Linked DNA regions of Homo sapiens. The protein of the gene in region 6 interacts with the protein of the main gene of each other region in a pairwise test. Each region holds a gene or a part of one and is shown on either strand. Other genes may lie near its edges. The genes, in order: FRMD6, PROS1, ZRANB1, QRICH1, DRD1, LMO3 and MALSU1.

Region 1 (3,500 bases), on a different chromosome or scaffold from region 6:
TACCAGCTAAACCATAAACTGTAGAAAATAAACTACAATGAGCATAAGGGGAAAAAAAAACCTCCACAATTAAAAATTCACTTTAAAATTCAGCCACATCCTTTAAGTGCTCATCTGTAATAAGTATATATAGTGTATAAAGTTCAAAATAGAAATGAAATTACTAAGTAAATATTTTCATTATGAGATTTCCCAATAAACACAATGAGTATGCAGAGATCTTTTTAAGCTTAGTGCCAGCTTTCCCATGAACATGGGATGAAATATTTTTAAAACATGTGTCCTCACCTGGCATTATAAATATAAGACACAGCCTATTTCTACTATTTAGGCTGTTTCTTTCCAACTAGTATATTTTTACATCAAGAAAAACACATATAGCATAAGCTTTAAGAGGAGAAACTAATCCATCATTATATGAGTTTTGGTCAATTTCGCTTTCAAGGATGTACAGATTGCTTTCCAAAATAAGGCTATGCTCATAAAAATGCTGGTTTTCAAGTATACGGTATATATTGGTGGGAAAGGGGCACAAAACGGGTTTTTTTTCCAGAATGTTCCCTTGTCCTTTGTCTACCTTATTTCCCGTTTATGAGCAGCTCCTAAATGAAGCAGATTTAATGGCTGCCGCTGAATTTCTCCAAAGAATAAAAACTGTGAATCAGCCAATATCTTTTCCCCCACTTCATTATGTTACATTTTTACTAAAAATCTTTTTAGCAGATAAGAGTCATTTTCTATGCAATTCAGAAGCGCCATACTTTAAGTAAACTTGAAAATTAAGTTTTACACAGAAGATAAATTGGGGATATCTACTTCAACAAAAGATTCTTATTTCTTAATAGGATTCTTTAAAATAGCAAGCTTCCCCAGCAAATAAGGCAAAAAGCAATTAATGGTTATTGAGCACTCACTAATGTGCCAGGTATTCCACCTCATTATTTCAGATTCATTATCTCACCAAAGCCTCCCAACCTTGTGAAGCATATTGTATCATCCCCACTTAATAGACAGCTCAGGATTATAGTTGCCTAGGATCCCAGCTATAGCGAGTAGTGACATAGGGTTTCTAATTGACATCTGATTCCAAAGCCACACTCTTACTCTTTCCAACATATCATTCATACTTCTAATACATTTTAAAATATAAACTAATTATCAAAACTGTCATTTATTTGCATTTTCTTGTGTCAATTGAGGTGTCACAAATAAAATCTCTTCAGGCTAAAAAAAAATTACAACTCAGTCCTTTAGGAATTTAGCCAAACAGATCTTATGGAACTCAATTATGCCTTTCAAGGAAGATGGGGCATTAATAATGCATCTCTTGGGCATAGAAGAGAGATAGAAAAAACATCAGTTGGTCCCTTAAGTTTTCTGAACCAGCTAACAAGATTACTGAGCAATACATCCAAACTAAAGCCCAGTTTCCAATGGTCTAGCTATGCTAATCCTACCACAAAAGGCAAAGTAGAGATAACAAGCATAATACTATCAATGGTAATGGTAACAGCAGCCAACTTAACATCATGCTTAACATGTGCTGGGCACTGTTTTAAGCAGTTTTTCATCCAACAATTCCTTTAGTATTCAGCAATCCTAAAAAGCAGGTATGTTGCTGTCCCCTTTAACTATGGGGAAACTGAAGTACAGAGCGGTTAAGTAAGTAACTTGCCTGAGGTCACATAGTAAGAGGCCAAACTGAGATTCAATCCTAGGCAGTTAGGCTCAACTTACAGTGCTCTTAACCACTTCATCCATTTGGTTTGAGAATACACCTTTGAATACTTAAGTGGGTATTCAGGAGTTCTTGCCAACAAAGTGGCACTTATGGAATAGTGAAAGGGGTTAGGAGGAGGAGGGGAAGAGAAGACAAGATGATATAGAGTACTGTGAGTGATTCCCTGCAGAGCATGGCCCCAGTTGTTATTTGGGTGTGTGACCTCTGCCCCAGAAAGGAAAAACGAGGCTAGAGATACACGGGACACAAAGGAGAGTAACTTCCGAGAGTGAGGAACGTGTGGAATACAGTGCCTTAGGCTCACAGCCTATGTTATCAAGAAGGCCTTGACTAAATCCTGGCTTTGCCATTTAGTTTTGTGATCTTAGGTGATTCATTTAATCTCTTTAAGCCTCAGTTTCCTGGACTGTAAAATAAAGATTAAAGTACCTTTCATATAAAGTTATGAGGATTAAAAAAAACACATATAAAGTGTGCCCAGTAAACACAGGACTCCATAAACATTACCTGTTGTGGTAATGTTCTTGTAACTGACGGATACAACGCAGGTATAGCTTCACTTTGAGGAATATTAAAAATTACTTATCAAAGAAGTTGCAAATGCTATTCCCCAAAGCAGAAAAGCAGATTTGGGGAGGAGAGAAATAACAATGCCATAATCACTAAAAAAGTCAGATTAACATCTTATAGCCAATTGTCATCTCACTATTAGAACCATTAAAAAATACTCCACCCCGCTTCCAGGCCAGAGTAAAAGCACCATGGCCTCCAAGACTGACGTGCGATAACAAAAAGCAGTTCAATGAAACTCTTTTAAAAGCATGTAAAAAATGAAATAAGTTTTAATGGAAATGAAATCCTTCGGTTTTCCTTCTCAATCCTATTGAGAAGATGTTTTTTTCTCAGAAGCTGAAGACTTAGTTGCCGTTTCATACCTTATACAATCTGTAGTAATGAACAGCGACGTCATCCAGTCGGACAGCCTCTTTGATATATTTAAGATGAGCTTCGGAAGCTGTTAGTGCAAACTGATCTTTGTGCATGTTTGGAATGTGCTTCAGGATGTAGTCCTTCCCCCTCTTGGAAACAACCTGTTGGGATACAAGGGGTGTGCAATGCAACATTTGTTGGAGAGATGTAAGTTCTACCCCCACCCCCAAAATGATGAAAGAATGAGAAGCTAAAATAGGCCATGTAAACTGGTTGGTTTGCATTGAAAATTCATTCTGTTTTCACCATCTGTTATGTTACTAGGCTAAATCAGCTAATACTAGAAGCTATAGAGTCAATTTAGTTGTACTGCTGAATACCTAAGAAGAAAAATCACAACAAATAGGAAAAATAAGTTATCTTTGCTTTAAAGTCACCAAGAGAAAAACACTACACAAACTTTCATAATTTTGTACACATAATTGTTTATACTTGCAAGTTTATACTTGGTACCATGAAATACATCTATAGTAGGCACATCTTCAGGTTCTGGATCCTACCTAACTCTTAAGAAAATTTCAGCCACAGACTGGGAGGTTCTAAATGTTAATCAAAAGAAGGCAGGGTACTGGGAGAAATTCTCTAAAACATTTTTGGTTCTTGCATAAGAGGCTGATATGAACACTGCTGGAATACTTATGAGAAAACCGTTTCATTCAAACACTCATTGTGATTCACTGTGACTTAGATTTTCATCAGACAGTACTCTGGGCTTTCAGATGTCAAATATATAGTATCCAGCAGCTGCAGGCTAAGAGAAAGGTGTTGA
Region 2 (3,500 bases), on a different chromosome or scaffold from region 6:
TGCTATGTACGTAATTCTCCTCAAAATATCCTCATATGTGTTCAATAATTTGTATGTTAAAAGCTTTTCATTTTAATGTTTGTTTTCACTCGTAGAAAAAAAATACTTGATACCATATGTGATGACTTTAAATAATGTTCTTGTAAATTCCTTGGAGACTATGAGATCTGAATTTATATTTATTTCCTTCATGTTTTCCAGTATTCCCTTTACTATCTAGATAGCACATTCTTGCTCAGAAAACTTTTGCTTAATAAATGAATGAGTGAATGAATGAGGTGCTGTTTATTGGTACATTAATTCTTACACCTATTTCTGACTTCAAATAAAAATAATTTTCAGACATAATTCATGGGAGATAATATACCTGACTGTTAATTAAAGAAATATATATTGGTTCTTGAAGAAAGAGTTTGTGTTTAGGACGAAAATTTGCAAAGGAAGTATTAAAGACAAAGATCGAAAGCCATGCACATTGAACGAGGCTTTAAAACACATGTATTCTTGGAGGTTATACTGATAGATAGACTATACAAGGAAATGGAAGATATGTATTTATTATTACCAAAAATATTCTTAATTATTTTAGTGTATTACAGATGATACATTAGTAACCAAACAAAAATGCATGACCTCACACAAACATTAAGCAATAACCTGTGCATTTTGATTTTCTTGTTGTTTATTTGGTTTCTTTTATTCCAGGTTGTTTCAGTGTGCCTTCCCTTGAACCTTGACACAAAGTATGAATTACTTTACTTGGCGGAGCAGTTTGCAGGGGTTGTTTTATATTTAAAATTTCGTTTGCCAGAAATCAGCAGGTGAGGAACCAATACCAATGATAATTTCTAGAGGTTAAGCAGATAAGGGCAGAAGAAAAGTGGCCGAAAAGGTTTGAAGTGTGTGAAATTGTATTACCTATCAGATAATGTAGTCATATTACCAATCAGATGACTTGGGGAAACCTAAAGTTAATTTACTCCTTCACACATGTAATTTTCATCCTAAAACCTTTTTGAGTCATTCTAGGCTGACTTTCCCCAATGAACATTTTACATTATTCCATATTATTCCTTTTGTAGAAAATGCATATTTACTAAGAAGCTGGGAAAGTAGATTTAATGTACTTGTGAAATTTCCATTATTCTTTACACATGTTATGAAAACCAGGTAATAAAAAATACTCAGTATTGCTTTTAGAATATCATTATATTCAAAATTATTAAGGAAAAAATTTAAACTTGCTTAAGTGGCATTTTAAAGACATATATTACATAATTTTAGTTGGCTGTCTAAATACTTTATCCATTATTATCGTACTTAGATTGAGTTCAGAAATGAAGTAAATGCTTATGTTTTTTAGTCATGATTCCACTTATTTTTATAGCAATGTTTATGATCCAATTTTTATTTTATTATATTTATTTATTTTTGAGACAGAGTCTTGCTTTGTTCCCCAGGCTGGAGTGCAGTGGCGCAATCTCGGCTCACTGCAACCTTCGCCTCCCAGGTCAAGCAATTCTCCTGCTTCAGCCTTCTGAGTAGCTAGGACTACAGGTGTGAGCTGCCACACCCAGCTAATTTTTGTATTTTTAGTAGAGACAGAGTTTTACCACGTTGCCCAGGGTTGTCTCAAACTCCTGACCTCAGGTGATCACCTCAGGTGATCTGCCATAATTGTACTTCAGTTATCAGATTTTCTCAGAAGCATACATTGCTGGAAGTAGAAGAAAGAAATTGGATTTTTTTTGGAATAATGAGAAGGCAAAATACTTGAGACAGATTATACAGTTCAAATTTTAAAATATTTTAATTAAATAAGCATGTATGTTTAGAACTTGATGTTAGATACATGAATGATTATTCATTAAATAATTCAACTAAATTCATAGACGTTATTAAAAACATTGAAAATTATTCTAAGATCAATAACTTACATAAATACTTAAGTAACAGTGCTCCTTCCACACTTTATTTCTGCCAATATGTGGTTTTTTCCTTTAACATCACAGAGCAACTAATATCTTCTAATGATAGAGATTGGAGAAAACTCTTCCCTGCTATGAGAATAATAATGAGAGAAAAATATTAGTTCTAGTAAATAACACTTTTAGGAATACAATTGATCCTCCAAATCCTTGAGTTCCTCATCTGTGGATTTAACCAACCTCGGGTAGATAATATTCAGAAAAAAACACAATGACAATACAATACAAAATAATACAAATGAGACACAATACAGTATGACAACTATTTACATACATTTGCATTGTATTGAGTATTATACATAATGTAGAGACGACTTAAAGTACGTGAGAGGATGTGCATAGGTTATATGCAAATACTATGCCATTCTATATAAGGGACTTGAGCATCTGTGGATATTGATACCATCCAGAGGTCCTGGAGCCAATCTCCAGGAGTTTGTTCATTTCTCACTGACGATTCATAGTAGTTTGATCTCTAACATGGGATCAGAATTGGACAAATTATTTTTTCCAGAATTTATTATTTATTTATTTTAAACTTTTCATTGAAATATAAAGTATGTACCGATATGTACACATTAGATTAAATGTATAGCTTGATGAATTTTTATAAACTGCCCCTTGTGTGATCAACACAAAGAATAGCTAGTGCTTTTATTTATTTTTGCAAATTTCTTGACGTCTGTTGCTCATGATCAAATACTTTCCCTCCGTAAATGTCAACAAATTCATTCTATTTTCCTGTTTACCATGCTTGTGAAAAAGAATGAATTGTTCCCCATTGTAATGAATCAATATGCTGCTGATATATTCCAGAAACAAAATATGCAGAACATGACCCTTTGAAACTATGATTTCAGCCTGATTTTACAAAGAAAAGGAAATTATCTCCATAATAGAATCAACTGCTGGAAGATCCTGAGCATACACAGATTTGGATTTTGGCAAGATAATATTGCTTCACATCAGCAAAATGCTCAGATAATTATGAAAGAGCATAGAAGTCCTTATTCCAAGCAAAATTGTTCTTTTTTTCATAATCTGAGTTCAGTAAATTCCTACTACATTGTTATCCATCCAACATACTTTACTCCACATTTTACCTCTTTTTAAATATTTCTTTGGAATTCTAAAGATGAAAACATTCATTTTGTCACCTTTTCTTTGTTCCATTTGAGGGAGATACGTGCCCCATTGCAAATGGTGCCTCTATTACTATTACTATTTTACTATATTGCGGTAAGAGTGTGGGATTCTGTCCTGCCTAATATAGCAATTATCTGAAGTCCAGACTCTTTAACTTAAATTGCCTTTATTTTAAGTTAGGTGACTAATAGTTATACACCTATTGTTCCTTTTCCCTGTTTGTCTTTCGTCAATCATGTGGATTTGCTAGTCCCTTGGAAACTTCAATGCTGATTCTCATTGAAGTGTTTTAAGGATACTGAATCAACACATGTTATTTTAAGTCCTGCATCCTAAGACTTTTCTCCCCTGTAATAGCTACATATA
Region 3 (3,500 bases), on a different chromosome or scaffold from region 6:
CTATTTATATTGGTCATGCAAATCACCCAAAAAGCCCAAAGAGGGGGTAGAGGGAGATGAACCTATAAGGAAGTCAATGGGCAAGTTAAAAATGTAAATTTGGACATTATAACTTATTTCATCAATACTGTTTTTATTTTTTTGTTTTTATTTATTTATTTATTTTGAGACAGAGTTTCACTTTGTTGCCCGGGCTGGAGTGCGGTGGCATGATCTCAGCTCACTGCAACCTCCGCCTCCCAGGTCCAAGAGATTCTTCTGCCTCAGCCTCCCAAGTAGCTGGGATTACAGATGCCCGCCACCACACCCAGCTAATTTTTGTATTTTCAGTAGAGACGAGGTTTCACCATGTTGGCCAGGCTGGTCTTGAACTCCTGACCTCAAGTGATCCGACCGCCCCGCTCTCCCAAAGTGCTGGGATTACAGGCATGAGCCACCGCGACCAGCAGATGGTGTGTTTTTAAAAACACCAAATGTTTTGTGCCTTCAGGTAAGTCATCAATAAAATATCCTTGTGAAAGAAATAATTTTTAAAGCTAAGGAGTAATGAACTAGAGAATAGAAGCCTCTTCTATTTTTTTCTTCACAATCGTTTGTATGCCCTGAGTTTTCTCTCAAGTTAAAAAGTCACCCCAAAGATGTCTTAAATGGGCAAAATCACCAGTGTCCAATGCAAGGATTTCCTTTTCCGTTTTGACATGGTAATTTTCTTGGTAATATAAATCACTTTAAAATCATTCCAGTTCAAAGGAATATAATCTCTCAAAAACTAAATGACTTTTCCTTCACAGAAGTTAATTTAATTTTGTTTGGATTATTGTACAACCTCCCTTTCATTACACCAGGCACATATTTCAACAGTAGAAACTTTTTTTAAAAAAATCATTATAGAAGATTACATTTTGCAACGGTTTTGTTTCTCCAGAGAAAAAAGTAATACTAATTTAATAATTTACTTGAGAAAAACCTCTGACAAATTGTAAATGTCCATCTATATACGTAATTCTTAATATCAATACCAAAACAAATTGAAAAGAATATTTTAAAATGTAATACGCCTACACTTTGCTATTTTTTTTTTTAAACAAGGTGTGTAAGTAAAACCAAATGGACAAATACCTTCTGACATATTTAATACCATGCAAGTTTTAAGACATGGTCTTGCTCTGTCACCCAGGCTGCAATGCAGTGACACAATCATGGCCCGCTGCAGCCTGGGCGCAAGTGTTCCTCCCATCCCAGCCTCCTGCATAGGTGGGGACCACATGGGAACACCACCATGTCCTGCTAATTTTTTTTATTTTTTATAGAGACGAGGTCTCGCCAAGTTGCCCAGGTTGGTTTTAGAGTCCTAGGCTGAAACGATCCTCCCCTCTTCTCAACCTCCCACAGTGCTGGGATTACAGGACTGAGCCACCATATCCAGACCCATCCAGAAACTGTGGAAATATTTAGATATTTCTAGAGTTACACTTGGCACTCTAGAGTGGACAGACACCATATGACACGTTATACGGATTTCTGGCAAGAGGCCCAAATACAATTAGAATCCAAATGGATTTGCCTCAAACATTGATTCTCAACACAATTAAGTTATGAGAAAAGGGAAAATAATAGATTAAATATAACAATATTTTTGCAGACAACTAATATAAGAAAACGTTACCAATACATGTTCTATGTTTTAAAAATCATGTAAGACCAGGCACAGTGGCTCACACCTGTAATCCCAGCACTTTGGGAGACCGAGGCGGGCGGGCTGCTTGAACCCAGGAGTTTGAGACCAGCCTGGGCAACAAGGGGAAACCTCATCTCTACAAAAAATGCAAAATTAGCCAGGCGTGGTGGTGCACGTCTGTAGTCCCATCTACCTGGGTGGCTGAGGTAGGAGAATTGCTTGAGCCCAGGAGGCAGAGATTGAAGTGAGCCAAGATCACACACCACTGCACTCTAGCCTGGGAGACAGTGAGACCACCTTGCCTCAAAAAAGTTAATTAGTTAATTAATTAAAAAATAAAACAATAAAAATCATCTAAGTCTTTACAGACATGTCAAAATTCTGAAAGTGGGACAAATTTTGCTCAGAAACCATCAGAATTATAATCCTCATGATGCCACTTCATCCTGCTACTTGATAAAGAAGAGATTCTGGTTCAGTCCGTAAGTCATTGATTTTCAACAGGGAACACCACTGCATGTGCACTTCACGTCACCCCAAAACTTCAGAGCACCGGGAGGCATTACTGATTCACATATTCCCTATAGTGAAAGCTGTTCATACCACTGCTATTGGGCAACTGAGTATTTCAGCATAAAAATTCCAGTTTCAGGCCAGGTGGTGGCTCACAACTGCAGTCCCAGTACTTGAGTCCAGGAGTCTGAAACCAGCCTGGGCAACACAGAGAGACCCCATCTCTACAAATCATTTTTAAAATTGGCGGGGCATGGTGGTATACACCTGTACGCCCAGCTACTAGGGAAGCTGAGGTGGGAGGACTGCTTAAGCCCAGGAGGTCAAGGCTGCAGTGAGCTGTGATCGCACCACTGCACTCCAGCATGGGCAACAGAGCAAGATCCTGTCTCAAAAAAAAAAAAAAAATGTGTGTGTGTGTGTGTGTGTGTGTGTATACGTGAATATATATACATATATGTGTGTGTAAACATATATATATACATATGTGTGTAAACATATATATATACATATATATGTGTATACATAGTTTCAATGTGAACTTGTTACTTAAGTTTGATTTTTTTCCCCCTATACCTTCAACAGCCCCAACCAAATCTCAGCTCCTAAACTTAAGAAAGATGCAGCTATTGTTTAGGAAGTAAGATAAACGCCAACTAGGAAGCAGCAGGTCCAATGACAACTGAATAAAATATTTCAAGTAAAAATCTCATTTGATAGTTATAGCAAACACATAGAATGATTTTTTTGAAAAAACAAATATTGCCATGAGTGAAAGTAGGGAGGTAGAGAAATTAAACATAAACCTGACTTTAGACTTTTCATGTCCATAGACTGCCTGGTGATAAACTGAAGCCTCTATACCCTTTCCTGTAAGACCCTTTCATACCCACTACTTACCTCAGTCTTCCTGACAACCAGTGAGAAGTAAAACTGGCTCTCCTGGGTTGAGCCCCAACTATTGAAAAACATAGAGAGCTAGGAAGCAGGCAAAGAATCTAGAAATTCATAGGAGGAGTAGGATAAAGGTTTGCCCAGACCCTAGTTCCCAAAAATATTCATTCGTTCATTGATATAAAAATACCTGAGTGCCTAGTATGTATGTAGCAGGCACTGTTGTACATACTAAGATACAGCTTTGAACAAAACATAAAATTACTGGCCCTCAGGAAGCTTAAATTCTAGAGTAGAGAGAGACAAATAATAAACAAGATGATGAAGCATATTAGAAGTGTTATGAAGAAAATTAATGCTGTGGGGAGGGATAATGGACAGGGATGAAATTTTAGATACGGCAGTCATGGAGGAC
Region 4 (3,500 bases), on a different chromosome or scaffold from region 6:
TTTTGTATTTTTTAGTAGAAACGGGGTTTTACTCTGTTAGCCAGGATGGTCTCAATCTCCTGACCTCGGGATCCTCCCACCTTGGCCTCCCAAAGTGCTGGGATTACAGGCGTGAGCCACCGCGCCTGGCCTATTACCTGTTCTTTTCTGTTATTCTGTTGTACTGCATTTTGTTCCAGATGTTTTAAGTCCTCTTCAGACTTCACTTAAATGCTTCCTTTGTATTTTTTCCTAGTTATTACATTAGATTGTGATTTCTGTTATTAAATTGATGTGGCTGCATGAAGAAATGGTAGATTAATTTCTTCCTTTGCTGAAAGAGGGAAGGAGTGCTCCTTTGGTCTCACTCTTCAGGCCAGGGCAAAACTGTAGGTAGAAATGGTGGCTGTGTCAGAAGGCTAATATTTTTCTCTTTTTCTCTTTTCTCTTTTTTTTTTTTTTTTGAGATGGAGTTTCACTCTTGTCGCCCAGGCTGGAGTGCAGTAGCACGATTTCGGCTCACTGCAACCTCCACCTTCCGGGTTCAAGCAATTCTCCTGCCTCAGCCTCTGGAGTAGCTGGAATTACAGGTGCCCGCCACCACGCTGGGCTAATTTTTTTTTTTTTTTTTTTTGAGACGTAGTCTCGCTCTGCTGCCCAGGCTGGAGTGCAGTGGCACGATCTCGGCTCACTGCAAGCTCCACCTTCTGGGTTCACGCCATTCTCCTGCCTCAGCCTCCCGAGTAGCTGGGACTGCAGGTGCCTGCCACCATGCCCGGCTAATTTTTTGTAGTTTTAGTAGAGACGGGGTTTCACCGTGTTAGCCAGCATGGTCTTGATCTCCTGACCTCGTGATCCGCCCGCCTCGGCCTCCCACAGTGCTGGGATTACAGGCGTGAGCCACTGTGCCCGGCTGATGTCTGGCTAATTTTTTGTATTTGTAGTAGAGACGGAGTTTCACTATGTTGGTCAGGCTGGTCTTGAACTCCTGACCTCGTGGTCTGCCTACCTTGGCCTCCCAAAGTGCTGAGATTACAGGCGTGAGCCACTGCGCCCGCCCATGTTTTTCTTTGTTTTAAAATTTGTGAAATATTTATCCATCCATGTAAATTTAGGCGATCTCTGTACAATTTAATGACAAATTATAAAGTAAATGCTGGCGAAAGTACTACTTTTTCAAGAAATAAAACGATGCCAGTATCTCTGAACCCTTCGTGGGTCCCTTCCTGATCACAGCTTCTCAAGCCGTACAGACAGCTGTTATTCTGTGATAACATTCTTCTTCTTTTTACATTTACCATCTCCGTAGCCCTTAACCTAGTTTAGATTTGTTTCCTTATGAGTTTTGTATAAATGGAGTCATGCTGTATTATGTTGTCTTAGCATAATGTTTCTGAAATTTGTTCACATTGTGTGCAGCTGTTCATTTCCATTTTTTATGTAGTATTCTGTTGTATGAATACACCATAAGGTATTTATCTATTCCACTATTGATAGATATCTGGGTTGCTTCCAGCTTTTGGCTCTTAACAATGCTGCTGTGAACATTCTTGTATTAAGTACCCTTGTTTAAAAAAAAGTTCCTTCATATATACTGATGGGTAAAATTGCTCAGGTTCGTGGAATGGATATTTTCAGCTTCACTAGATAATGCAAGTGGTTGTGCCAGTTTACAATCCGTCAATATTTGGGAAAAATACAAATTTTAGTTTCCTGATTGAAAATAGAACCATGGCCGGGTGCAGTGGCTCATGCCTGTAATCCCATTACTTTAGGAGGCCAATGCGGGCGGATCACCTAAGGTCAGGAGTTCCAGACCAGCCTGGCCAACATGGTGAAATCCCGTCTCTACTAAAAATACAAAAATTAGCAGGGCATGGTGATGGGCGCCTGTAATCCCAACTACTCGGGAAGATGAGGCAGGAGAATCGCTTGAACCTGTAGGCGGAGGTTGCAGTGAACTGAGAGGGCACCATTGCACTCCAAGCTGGGGGACAGAGCGAGACTCCATTTAAAAAAAAAAAAAGAAAAGAAAAAAAGAAAATAGAACCGTGATGAAAATGCCCCTAAACCAGGGACTCCTCTGGCATGGGGCATATAAATGGCCTAATGGGATAACTTCTATCACAAACCCTGCAGTTGGCTAGTATCCTTAAAAATCGAAATATGGGTGGAACACAGTGCCTCATGCCTGTAATCCCAGCAGTTTGGGAGGCCAAGGTGGGAGGATTGCTTGAGCCCCGGAGTTGGAGACCAGCCTGGGCAAGATGGCAAGACCCCATTTCTACAGAAAAATAAAAATAGCTGGATGTGGTAGCATGGACCTGTAGTCCCAGCTACTCGGGAGGCAGAGGCAGGAGGATTGTTTGAGCCCAGGAGTGTGAGGCTGCAGGGATCTATGAATGCACCACTGCATTTTATCCTGGGTAGTGGAGCAAGACCTTGTCTCATTAAAAAAAAAAAAAAAAAAAAAACAGACAAAAGCCTGGTGCAGTGGCTCAGGCATGTAATCCCAGCACTTTGGGAGGTCGAGGGGGGCCGTGGAAATGAACTCCTCACCTGAGGTCAGGAGTTCGAGAACAGCCTGGCCAATATGGTGAAACCCCGATTCTACTAAAAATACAAAAAAATTAGCTGGGCTGGGTGGCGTGCGCCTGTAGTTCAAGCTACTAGGGAGGCTTGAGGCAGGAGAACCACTTGAACCTGGGAAACGGAGGTTGCATTGAGCCGAGATGATGCCATTGCACTCCATCCTGGGTGAGAAAACGAGACTTCGTCTCAAAAAAATAAAAATACAAAGAAACAAAACCCAGGCAAAAGAATAGAAATACGTCAATTCTGGTCGGGCACGGTGGCTCACGCCTGTAATCCCACCACTTTGGGAGGCCGAGGCGGGCAGATCATGAGGTCAGGAGATCGAGAGCATCCTGGCTAGCACGGTGAAACTTTCTCTCTACTAAAAAATACAAAAAAATTAGCTGGATGTGGTGGCGGGCGCCTGTGGTCCCAGCTACTTGGGAGGCTGAGGCAGGAGACTGGCGTGAACCCGGGAGACAGAGCTTGCAGTGAGCCGAGATTGTGCCACTGCATTCCAGCCTGGGTGACAGAGTGAGACTCTGTCTCAAAAAAAAAAAAATAAATGAAATAAAATGAATATATTCACATGGAAAAAAAATCAATTTCCATTTTAAGGAGTCATGTCTGTCTTATAAACATATGGAGTTATTTCAAAGAAGCATAGAAGACATTGTTCTTTTTTTTTTTTTTTTTTTTTGAGATGAACCTCCGCCTCCTGAGTTCAAGCAATTCTTCTGCCTCAGCCTCCCGAGTAGCTGGGACTACAGGCGCATGGTACCCCGCCTGGCTAATTTTTGTATTTTTAGTAGAGATGGGGTTTCACCATGTTGGCCAGGCTGGTCTTGAACTCCTGACCTCGTGATATGCCCGACTCGGCCTTCCAGCGTGCTAGGATTACAGGCATGAGCCACTGCACCTGGCCTATTTTTTTATTTTTATTTTTT
Region 5 (4,170 bases), on a different chromosome or scaffold from region 6:
GAAGGCACCACAGTGTCGCAATTTATGCACAATTAGTGCAAAGTCTCACCTGTGAGCTTGCCTGGGGCAACCAGGGGAGGCTGGGGGCTCCTTCTCCACCAGGCCCCGCTGCCTCCATATGACTCTTCCCTGTATTTTAGCCCTGTAGGTAATTTTCCAGTTTGTGGGCTCCTGTACCACATGCGGTGAGTTAAAAGAACAGGTGGGCAGCGGCGCGGCTCCCGCGTGAGCTGTGTGACTTTGAGCAGGCCCCACTACCTTTCCGAGCCGCATTTCCACCTGGGCGAAGCGGGTTGAGCCGGCCTGGCGGGGAAAGATTCTTTTAACGGGGGAACAACGTAAGGCGTGCACCGGGGAACACGGATGCTGCTGAGTCAATGCCCGCTCTGCCGTTCTCTTTGAGAGTAAGGCTTGCGTCTCGCCTGCTCTAGCGCCCCAGGTTTGAACGCAGTGGGCGCGCAGGAGGAAACATAGATTCACGAATGCAATGCCAGCAAAGTAAAATTTTTCACCCTTGTCCGTTTTTCAGGGTGTTTCAAGCGGAGGAGTCCTGAGTGGAGAAGATTCCGCTTCCCTGTTTTCAGGTTCTGGCAGTCATGGACCGGGAAGAGCGAGTCGGGGCGCGGGTCCCTGGCGGTCGCTGGAACCCTTGTGAGTGAGGTTGGTGCCCGCGAGGGCACAGCGGGCGCTCGGGAAGTCGCAGCCGCCGGCAGAGGGCGCCCCGGGCACACGGAGCGCGCGGCGCTGGGGTTGGGGCGCTCGGGAGGTGCGGGGCACCGGCTGGAGTCCGGCGTTGACCGCAGCCGGGACGCGCCCGCCACCTGGGCGGGGAAGGAGTGAGTCCCCTCGGGGCGCAGCGGCGCGCGCTGGCCCGGATCCCAGCTGCGCCGCGCCCTCCCTGCGAGCGGTGAGTACAGGCGCCCACGGGCATCTCCAACCCTAGTTAGGGGACACTTGGAGACAACGCAGGTCGGACGTCCGCCGGCCGTTCTAGGAGTTGGTGTGCGGGGAATGGGGGGTGCTCCCGCTCGCTTAGGGCTTTGGGTCCGGCTAGGGGTTGACCCCAAGAGGCGCTGGATGTCGGGGCTGAGCTTTGCTTTCAGGGGACTCAAGCTTACTTGAGGTTCTGACATTGGATTTGCCTCGCGGGCCCTGCGCGTGCTGCGCGGGGATCCGGAGACTGGCGAGGTAACCAGGGAGGGCAAGCACTCACCGGGGCGTCCTCCGCCCACCTCGCCCGCAGAACCATCCAGGGGGACCACGTGCGGCTGTCGCCCGCAACTCTGCCTGTCAAGCGAGGACCGCCCCCAGGGCAGGGGAGGGGACGCGCGGGCGGGGTGGGCTGTGCCCCGCGGGAACCCCGCCGGCCTGTGCGCTTGCTGGTGCCAGCTCGGCTCGCTGCCTCGCATTGCCACAGGCTCCTGAGAGGTCGCGGGCAGTGCCTGCGGGGAGGCGCGGGGCCCTGCTCTGTAGGGCTGAAGGCCGCCCGAGGTTCGCCAAGGCTCTGGGCTCTCGAAAGGAAGCCAAGAAAAGAAGCTGCCCAGGTGACCAGTCCTGGGAGTGCTCTCTCCCAAGGAAGCTCCGAGCGCCCAGGAGCCCTTAGCCGGGGTCTAGTGCCCTTTGAACAATCTCCAGCTCTTCAAGGAAGTGGGCTGCCGCCGCCTCTCTTGGGACCTGGCCTGGGATCCTTTCCCCAAACGCACCCCGGCGATTTTTGCGCACCGGGAGCCGAACCCCTGCTGCGCGCAGCTGGCTGGGCTCAGGCGCGCTTCCTCAACGTTTCGGAGCCGCTGCCCCCAGCGAAGTCCACATTCCAAGCTCCAGGGGCTTTGAGAGAGACGACCCCAAGGCAAGGTAGGTGGCTCGGACGGGCTCGCCCTGGGAATTATTAGGTTGGGCTTGACGTGAGTAATGATGCCATCTGCTTAAGTCTTGGAGAAAGACCGTGTGTTTTCCTTTTGCTTTTTAAGGCGTTTGGAGAGCTGCTGAGGAGCCAGGGGCTTGGAGGAGCGAGAAGACATGTATTTTCAGCTGAGTCTCAGAAGGGGAGAATCTCCTGTCACCACCAGAAAAGCAACAGCCCCGAAATGTGATTGCAACTGACTAGCAGAGCAGAGGCCCAGGAGTCACTGGATTGATGATTTAGAATATGCTAAAAAGCCAGTGCTTTATTTGGGGAATTCAGGGGCTTTCTGGTGCCCAAGACAGTGACCTGCAGCAAGGGAGTCAGAAGACAGATGTAGAAATCAAGAGTGACCATCCACGGGATTGACTTGGATTGCCACTCAAGCGGTCCTCTCATGGAATGTTGGTGAGGCCCTCTGCCAGGGAAGCAATCTGGCTGTGCAAAGTGCTGCCTGGTGGGGAGGACTCCTGGAAATCTGACTGACCCCTATTCCCTGCTTGGGAACTTGAGGGGTGTCAGAGCCCCTGATGTGCTTTCTCTTAGGAAGATGAGGACTCTGAACACCTCTGCCATGGACGGGACTGGGCTGGTGGTGGAGAGGGACTTCTCTGTTCGTATCCTCACTGCCTGTTTCCTGTCGCTGCTCATCCTGTCCACGCTCCTGGGGAACACGCTGGTCTGTGCTGCCGTTATCAGGTTCCGACACCTGCGGTCCAAGGTGACCAACTTCTTTGTCATCTCCTTGGCTGTGTCAGATCTCTTGGTGGCCGTCCTGGTCATGCCCTGGAAGGCAGTGGCTGAGATTGCTGGCTTCTGGCCCTTTGGGTCCTTCTGTAACATCTGGGTGGCCTTTGACATCATGTGCTCCACTGCATCCATCCTCAACCTCTGTGTGATCAGCGTGGACAGGTATTGGGCTATCTCCAGCCCTTTCCGGTATGAGAGAAAGATGACCCCCAAGGCAGCCTTCATCCTGATCAGTGTGGCATGGACCTTGTCTGTACTCATCTCCTTCATCCCAGTGCAGCTCAGCTGGCACAAGGCAAAACCCACAAGCCCCTCTGATGGAAATGCCACTTCCCTGGCTGAGACCATAGACAACTGTGACTCCAGCCTCAGCAGGACATATGCCATCTCATCCTCTGTAATAAGCTTTTACATCCCTGTGGCCATCATGATTGTCACCTACACCAGGATCTACAGGATTGCTCAGAAACAAATACGGCGCATTGCGGCCTTGGAGAGGGCAGCAGTCCACGCCAAGAATTGCCAGACCACCACAGGTAATGGAAAGCCTGTCGAATGTTCTCAACCGGAAAGTTCTTTTAAGATGTCCTTCAAAAGAGAAACTAAAGTCCTGAAGACTCTGTCGGTGATCATGGGTGTGTTTGTGTGCTGTTGGCTACCTTTCTTCATCTTGAACTGCATTTTGCCCTTCTGTGGGTCTGGGGAGACGCAGCCCTTCTGCATTGATTCCAACACCTTTGACGTGTTTGTGTGGTTTGGGTGGGCTAATTCATCCTTGAACCCCATCATTTATGCCTTTAATGCTGATTTTCGGAAGGCATTTTCAACCCTCTTAGGATGCTACAGACTTTGCCCTGCGACGAATAATGCCATAGAGACGGTGAGTATCAATAACAATGGGGCCGCGATGTTTTCCAGCCATCATGAGCCACGAGGCTCCATCTCCAAGGAGTGCAATCTGGTTTACCTGATCCCACATGCTGTGGGCTCCTCTGAGGACCTGAAAAAGGAGGAGGCAGCTGGCATCGCCAGACCCTTGGAGAAGCTGTCCCCAGCCCTATCAGTCATATTGGACTATGACACTGACGTCTCTCTGGAGAAGATCCAACCCATCACACAAAACGGTCAGCACCCAACCTGAACTCGCAGATGAATCCTGCCACACATGCTCATCCCAAAAGCTAGAGGAGATTGCTCTGGGGCTTGCTATTAAGAAACTAAGGTACGGTGAGACTCTGAGGTGTCAGGAGAGCCCTCTGCTGCTTTCCAACACACAATTAACTCCGTTTCCAAATACATTCCAGTGTATTTTCTGTGTTGTTCATAGTCAATCAAACAGGGACACTACAAACATGGGGAGCCATAAGGGACATGTCTTTGGCTTCAGAATTGTTTTTAGAAATTTATTCTTATCTTAGGATTTACCAAATAGGGCAAAGAATCAACAGTGAACAGCTTCACTTAAAATCAAATTTTTCTGGGAAGAAAATGAGATGGGTTGAGTTTGCTGTATACAA
Region 6 (3,146 bases):
AAAGTAATGTACATATGGCTGGATTTTTTTGCTTGCTATTCGTTTTTGTGTCACTTGGCATGAGATGTTTATTTTGGACTATTGTATATAATGTATTGTAATATTTGAAGCACAAATGTAATACAGTTTTATTGTGTTACCATTTGTGTTCCATTTGCTTCTTTGTATTGTTGCATTTAGTACAATCAGTGTTTAAACTTACTGTATATTTATGCTTTCTGTATTTACCAGCTATTTTAAATGAGCTGTAACTTTCTAGTAAAGAATTGAAAAGCAAATCTCACTAATGATACACAGATAGATAAAGCAAGTCTATCAACATTAAAAATACTAAAAAATAAAGACACACACAGAGCATTTTAGTGACATCCACTACTTATTGCCGCTATGAGTTAGAGTCTATCAGTGTTCTTGTTATAACCCCCTATTTTCAGGGGGTTAAAAATCAGCTTTAAAAAAATACATAAAAATTTCATCTTAAAGCACTTTCATTTTATACCAACGTGAAAAGTGCCATTTTTAGAATAACTTTAAAGCTTAACAGGTTTCCTTTTAATATCCTTTTTTTGTGTGCTCTTTACTTACACAATGGCTTTGTTTTGCTTTTTCAGCCACACCCCTTATGTGAACTAGTGCCTTTGGGTATCACGTAAAATTTTTTCCAAAGGGTTACTTTAAAAATCTGTTACCACAATTATGAGATGATTTTTAAGTGATAAATTAAACTTCTTCTTGTATAAATTCTGCCCAGATCTCTCCACAAGAGCTGAGGGTTTCATAACTTTATGGCTTAATAAATGTATGACACTGAAAAGATTTGAGTGTGAATCTACTGAAATCACTATAATGCACATTGAAGCTATGATGGTATTTGAGTAGTGAGGTTACTTTTGATCGGAGCAACATAATGCTCATAGAATCTTCTAGAAGAAGAGAAACAAAGGGATTGATAAAATGCTGAGAACTAGTGATTATATATTTTTCTGTATTTACCTGACATTTATTTTAATGTTCAAAAAGTAAACACTTTAAGTTTGATGTGTTTTACTCTCTCATTGTTTTAAGTAATTGCCAACTCAGAATACATCATTCTTAGGCTGAAATTTGTCTTTCCATTTTTTAAGGTGAAATAGTACTACCTTACGTGATAGCATACAAAGAAGAAAGCTCTAGAAAGAGAAATTATGGAGAATGATTATTTAAATTACAATTAAGGAAATGAGAATATGATCCCCTCTTCCGAGTTGCCCACAAACTTGCTTCTTTGCTTTTGCTCCCTGTAATAGAACTACTTTTCAACAAATCTAATTTTGCACGGCACCGTTAACCATATTTTCACTACAGCAAACTTAGTGCTATGGGTTTTCTTTTTCTTTGTTTTTTTCTTGATCACTTGTATAGGAAACAATATTTTCCAGTGTTATTTGCATATATATTTTGTCCTTCCAATATATGCATTACAGATGAAAATTAAATGTTATACCTGAATTCTTGGGTTGGGGCCAAAATATTAAGCTGAAAATAATGCTGGTGTGGATTTGTTTTAAAACAAAGCTTTATTATGAACATGCATGTGAATCTGGATATTGCCTCTTATTTTTAAGAAAATGGTTCTGTGAAAAGTGAATGATATGTATTTTTCCAAATGCTTCATGGTTAGGAGTCTTCAAGTTCCATGTTCCCCAGATTTGAGATATACTAAAGAAAGAAATTCAAAAGTAGCTATTTGGGGCCCACAAAAATAACTATTATTTTAGCCTTAGAGCCTTACACTTGTTTCATGAAGAGAAAGGACTTGCATAACCAAAATAAACAAAGCAAGACAAATTAAAAATATGTGGGGGAGAGATCAGTGAAAAGTGGTTTTCTTAATGCAGCCCTGCTGGTCCCCATTAACAATTGCTTGAAATTCACATGGATGTAAAATTATAATTGTCAGGATCTTATTCAGATGATCTTTTAAGGTTTAACTGGTTTTGCTTTTGTTTATCTATATGTCAAAATACTTGTAAATTGGGAACAAACTTCTCTCAGCTTCTTGAAGTTGTTCAACTATCCTTGCCACTGGAAGACCAAACAAGGTTTTCACTGCTTTTTCTTTTACATAATATGCTGAGAATTATTTCTTATGCTTTTTACTACAAACAAAATTACTCACCTGGATTAAAGATTAAGGCCTTAATCTGTTTAGATTATCTTTAATCTCCATGAAATCGTGAAATAAGACAAGAATAGTGTTTCAGCTGTAGGCCATTTTACAGCTAATTGCCCATAAATTGTAGCATTTATTGACCTGAAGTACTAAGCTAATTGTCTTGACTACTCAAAGCCCCTGAATTGTTGTCAACTTTCCCCTTTGTGTTGTGTAGCCCTAACGTCATTTAGCTTGTTGTCTGATGCCTCCAGTAGGACACCTCCGATGGAGCTTTGATTTCTGAGCAGCGAAAGCTCCCTTCCTAAGATGCATCTCGCATAGGCTGCCTATGATGAAGGACCGTGCACCTCCACTCCAACAGAGTGCTGAGTTTAAAAGTTGACCTGTGTTTGTAATTTCACTTTCATCTTGCTTAATAAATATCTGCTGGATTCTTTCATTCACTTTTTTACATTTGGATTTATGTTTTTAATAAAAGGGGTGTTACACTATTTGATTGCACTTAATTGGCAAAATTTAAGATGATCTCTAGAAAGCATATGTTAAGTCCATGAAAAGAAAAAAAAGGTGTGTAAGGACATTTACTTTCTAAAGCTAAGTCATAACAAGCATAGACAAAGCACCCCAAATGTTTCTCTGAATGTAATGTTTAGGATCTCTGCGCTAGGTCGTTTACCGCTATTTATTTTTATGGGGAAAATAAAACTCTCAAAAATGAAGGTAGCAATTGCTGGGTGTAATTTTGCACATTTATACAAATTTTAGGTGATCTTTCTGAAAGCAACTCTGTTGCTGTTGTCAGATTAAATTTCAAATTTTCTATTCTGTATAATGAATTAAAACAGGAAACTCAATTCTACATTTTTACAGAAGAGATGTTGCACCTTAACTGAAACAGGGCACTGAAAATTATATCTGTAGTAAAACATGCCATGCAAAAGTGTTTTCCTTTTAACTATCACTTTAGGCAAACCACTCTCTGAATCATCAC
Region 7 (3,500 bases), on a different chromosome or scaffold from region 6:
CAGATGCCAGTAAATGGAAAGATACTTCATATTCATGGATGGGAAGACAATATTGTAAAGATGCCAATACTACCCAATGCAGTCTACAGATTCAGTGCAATCTATATCAAGATCACAATATTTTTTGAAGAAACAGAAAAATCCAACCTAAACTTTATGTGGGGCCAGACACGGTGGCTCACACCTGTAATCCCAGCCCTTTGGGAGGCCAAGGCGGGTGCATCACCTGAGGTTAGGAGTTTAAGACCAGCCTAGCCAAAATGGTGAAACCTCATCTCTACTAAAAATACAAAAAATTAGCTGGGCATGGTGGCGGGCACCTGTAACCTCAGCTACTTGGGAGGCTGAGGCAGGAGAATTGCTTGAATCTGTGAGCCGAGATTGTGCCACTGTACTACAGCCTGGGCAACAAAAGCGAAACTCCATCTCAAAAAAAAAAAAAAAATTATATGGACTCTCAAGGAACCCCAAATAGCCAAAACAATCTTGTAAAAGAACAAAGTTGGAGTCTCATATTTCTTGATTTCAAAACTTAGAACAAAGCTATGGTAAACAAAACAGTCTGAAACTGGCAAAAAGACAGACGCACAGACTGATGAAACAGAATACAGAGCCCAGAAATAAACCCTTGTGCCTATGGTCAAATGATTTTCAACAATGGAGCCAAGACCATTCAATGCACAAAGGACAGTCCTTCCAACAAACGTTGCTGAGGAAATGTCCACATGGAAAACTAACCGCCTACAAAAACTAACTCAAAATGGGTTAAATATCTAAACAGGAGACTTAAAACTATAAAACTCTTAGAAGAAAATAGGGAAAACATGATACTGGTTTGGCAATTATTTATTAGATATAATACCAAAGACACAGGCAACAGAAGAAAAAATAAACTGAACTTCACCAAAATTAAATACTTTCGTGCATCAAAGGACACTCTAAAGAGTAAAAAGGCAACCCACAGAATGGCAGAAAACATCTGCAAATCACATATTTGATAAGGGATTAATATCCAGAATATATAGAGAGCTCCTACAACTCAACAACAAAACAACAAACAACCTGATTTTAAAATGGGCAAAGAGTCTGGGCAATATAGTGAGACCCTGTCTCTATAAAAAATAAATTAGCTGGGCACTGTGGAGTAACTCCTACCATTCTACTTTCTGTCTCTATGAATTTGACTACTCCTACTCCTCTAGTCCTAGCAACTTGGGAGGCTGAGGTGAGAGGATCACTCGAGCCCAGAAGTTCCAGGCTGCAGTGAGCTATGACCACACCACTGCACTGAAGCCTGGGCAACAAAGTGAGACACTGTCTCTTTAAAACAAACAAAAAAGCAAAGGACTTTTCTTCAAAGAATATATACAAATGGCCAATAAGCAAAAGAAAATATGCTCAACATCACTAATCCTTAGGGAAATACAAATAAAAACCACAATGAGATATCACGTCATGCCCATTAGGATGGCTATTACCAAAATGAGAAAATAAGTTGTTGATGAGGATGTGAAGACTGGAAACTCTGCACTGCTAGAGAAATGTAAAGTGGTGTAGCCACTATGAAAGAATACAGGAGCTCCTCAAAAAATTAAAAACATTCAGCTTTGTGCTAGGCTGGTGAACAGAAAAAAAATTAAAAACAGAATCACTATATGATCCAGCAATCCCATTTCTTTGCACATACCCCAAAGCATTAAAAGCAAGGACATAAACAATTTTTTTTTTTTTTGAGACTGAGTTTCGCTCTTGTTGCCCAGGCTGGAGAGCAGTGGCACAATCTCGGCTCACTGCAACCTCCACCTCCCAGGTTCAAGCGATTCTCGTGCCTCAGCCTCCCAAGTAGCTGGGATTACAGGAACCCTCCACCACACCCAGCTAATTATTGTATTTTTAATAGAGACAGGGTTTCACCATTTTGGCCAGGCTGGTCTTGAACTCCTAACCTCAGGTGAACTACCCGCCTTGGCCTCCCAAAGTGCTGGGATTACAAGTGTGAACCCAGCCTTTTTTTTTTTTTTTTTTCTTTTGAGACAGCGTCTTGCTCTGTCACCCAGGGTGGAGTGCAGTAGTACAATCTTGGCTCACTGCAGCCTCAAGCTCCTGGGCTCAAGCAATCCTCCACCTCAGCATTCCAAGTAGCTGGGACTACAGGCACACACCACCAAGCCCAGCCAATTTTTTATTTTATTTTTTGTCTTTTTTGTAGAGATGGAGTTTCACCATGTTGCCCAGGCTGGTTTCAAACTTCTGAGCTCAAGCAATCCGCCCACCTTGGCCTCTCAAAATGCTGGGATTACAGGCATGAGCCACTGCGCCCAGCCTCATGAACAGTATTTCTATACTCATATTTATACCAGCATTATTCACAATAGCCAAAAGGTGGAAGCAATCTAAGTGTCCATCAATGAATAAGGGGATAAACAAAATGTGGTATATACGTAAGATAGAGTATTATTCAGCCTTAAGAAAGAAGGAAATTCTGGCACATGCTACTACATGGATGAACCTTGAAGACATTATGCTAAGTCAGATAAGTCGGTCACAAATCTATGATTCTACTTTTATGAGATACTGAAAAGTAGTCAAATTCATAGAGACAGGCAGTAGAATGGTAGCTGCCTACGGAAGGAGAAATGGGGAGTTATTGTTTAATGAGTTCAGAGTTTCGTTTTTGCAAAATGAAAAAATTTCTGGAGACGGATGGTGGTAATGATTGTAAGTCAATGTGAAGGTACTTAAAGCTACTGAACAACACAGTTTAAAATTGTTAAATGGGCTGGGCACAGTGGCTCATGCCTGTAATCCCAGCACTTTGGGAGGCCGAGGTGGTCAGGAGTTTGAGACCAGCCTGACCAACATGGTGAAACCCCATCTCTACTAAAAATAGAAAAATCAGCCAAGCGTGGTGGTGGGTGCCTATAATCCCACCTACTCAGGAGGCTTAGGCCGGAGAATCACTTGAACTCGGGAGGCGGAGACTGCAGTGAGCTGAGATCGAGCCACTGCACTCCAGCCTGGGCGACAGAGCGAGACTCTTGTCTCCAAAAAAAAGATTAAACGGTAGGTTTTACGTTATATATATTTTACCACAAACAACAAAACTTTCTTGCCTTTGCATTTCTCTCATCTAAAATCTTTGTAAAGGCAATTTCTATTTCTTTATTCTTTCACAGAAACTTCTCTGTAAAACCTCCCATTCTTTTTACATCCGCAAGTCCAATGGTCACTAAGTCTTCTGACTCCATCCCACTATTACATCTGATAGAGACCCTGGTATGCTGTCTTTGTATATCTCTTCTTTATGCTTTCCTAGTTCTCTCCCTATCTCTCCAATTACCCTGTTTTTGGCATCTTCTTCTGCTCTGTCATGTACCAGGGTTTTGTGTATAGGCCCCACCTTTTTATTTTACAACCTTTCTCTATACAATTTTGGCTACTCTTTTGGTCTTAACTGCCTCCTCTATGACCAATTCTCAACAGACTAAGACTAAGAAAGG

Evidence for each region.
Region 1: the proteins of LMO3 (region 6) and FRMD6 interact in binary tests that used the Homo sapiens proteins (3 or more experiments, as listed by UniProt).
Region 2: the proteins of LMO3 (region 6) and PROS1 interact in binary tests that used the Homo sapiens proteins (3 or more experiments, as listed by UniProt).
Region 3: the proteins of LMO3 (region 6) and ZRANB1 interact in binary tests that used the Homo sapiens proteins (3 or more experiments, as listed by UniProt).
Region 4: the proteins of LMO3 (region 6) and QRICH1 interact in binary tests that used the Homo sapiens proteins (3 or more experiments, as listed by UniProt).
Region 5: the proteins of LMO3 (region 6) and DRD1 interact in binary tests that used the Homo sapiens proteins (3 or more experiments, as listed by UniProt).
Region 7: the proteins of LMO3 (region 6) and MALSU1 interact in binary tests that used the Homo sapiens proteins (3 or more experiments, as listed by UniProt).

What each region holds. Positions count from the first base shown.
Region 1 is NC_000014.9:51,707,410-51,710,909, reverse strand, and holds part of FRMD6 (FERM domain-containing protein 6), read right to left. Parts: intron 2,833-3,500; coding exon 2,677-2,832; intron 1-2,676.
Region 2 is NC_000003.12:93,893,897-93,897,396, reverse strand, and holds part of PROS1 (vitamin K-dependent protein S isoform 2 preproprotein), read left to right. Parts: intron 1-705; coding exon 706-821; intron 822-3,500. UniProt on the Homo sapiens protein: Anticoagulant plasma protein; it is a cofactor to activated protein C in the degradation of coagulation factors Va and VIIIa. It helps to prevent coagulation and stimulating fibrinolysis.
Region 3 is NC_000010.11:124,948,623-124,952,122, reverse strand, and holds part of ZRANB1 (ubiquitin thioesterase ZRANB1), read right to left. Parts: intron 1-3,500. UniProt on the Homo sapiens protein: Ubiquitin thioesterase, which specifically hydrolyzes 'Lys-29'-linked and 'Lys-33'-linked diubiquitin. Also cleaves 'Lys-63'-linked chains, but with 40-fold less efficiency compared to 'Lys-29'-linked ones.
Region 4 is NC_000003.12:49,087,572-49,091,071, reverse strand, and holds part of QRICH1 (transcriptional regulator QRICH1), read left to right. Parts: intron 1-3,500. UniProt on the Homo sapiens protein: Transcriptional regulator that acts as a mediator of the integrated stress response (ISR) through transcriptional control of protein homeostasis under conditions of ER stress.
Region 5 is NC_000005.10:175,441,383-175,445,552, reverse strand, and holds the start of DRD1 (D(1A) dopamine receptor), read left to right. Parts: upstream 1-1,370; 5' UTR 1,371-1,854; intron 1,855-1,970; 5' UTR 1,971-2,453; coding exon 2,454-3,794; 3' UTR 3,795-4,170.
Region 6 is NC_000012.12:16,547,872-16,551,017, reverse strand, and holds the end of LMO3 (LIM domain only protein 3), read left to right. Parts: 3' UTR 1-2,646; downstream 2,647-3,146.
Region 7 is NC_000007.14:23,302,339-23,305,838, reverse strand, and holds part of MALSU1 (mitochondrial assembly of ribosomal large subunit protein 1), read right to left. Parts: intron 1-3,500. UniProt on the Homo sapiens protein: Required for normal mitochondrial ribosome function and mitochondrial translation. May play a role in ribosome biogenesis by preventing premature association of the 28S and 39S ribosomal subunits.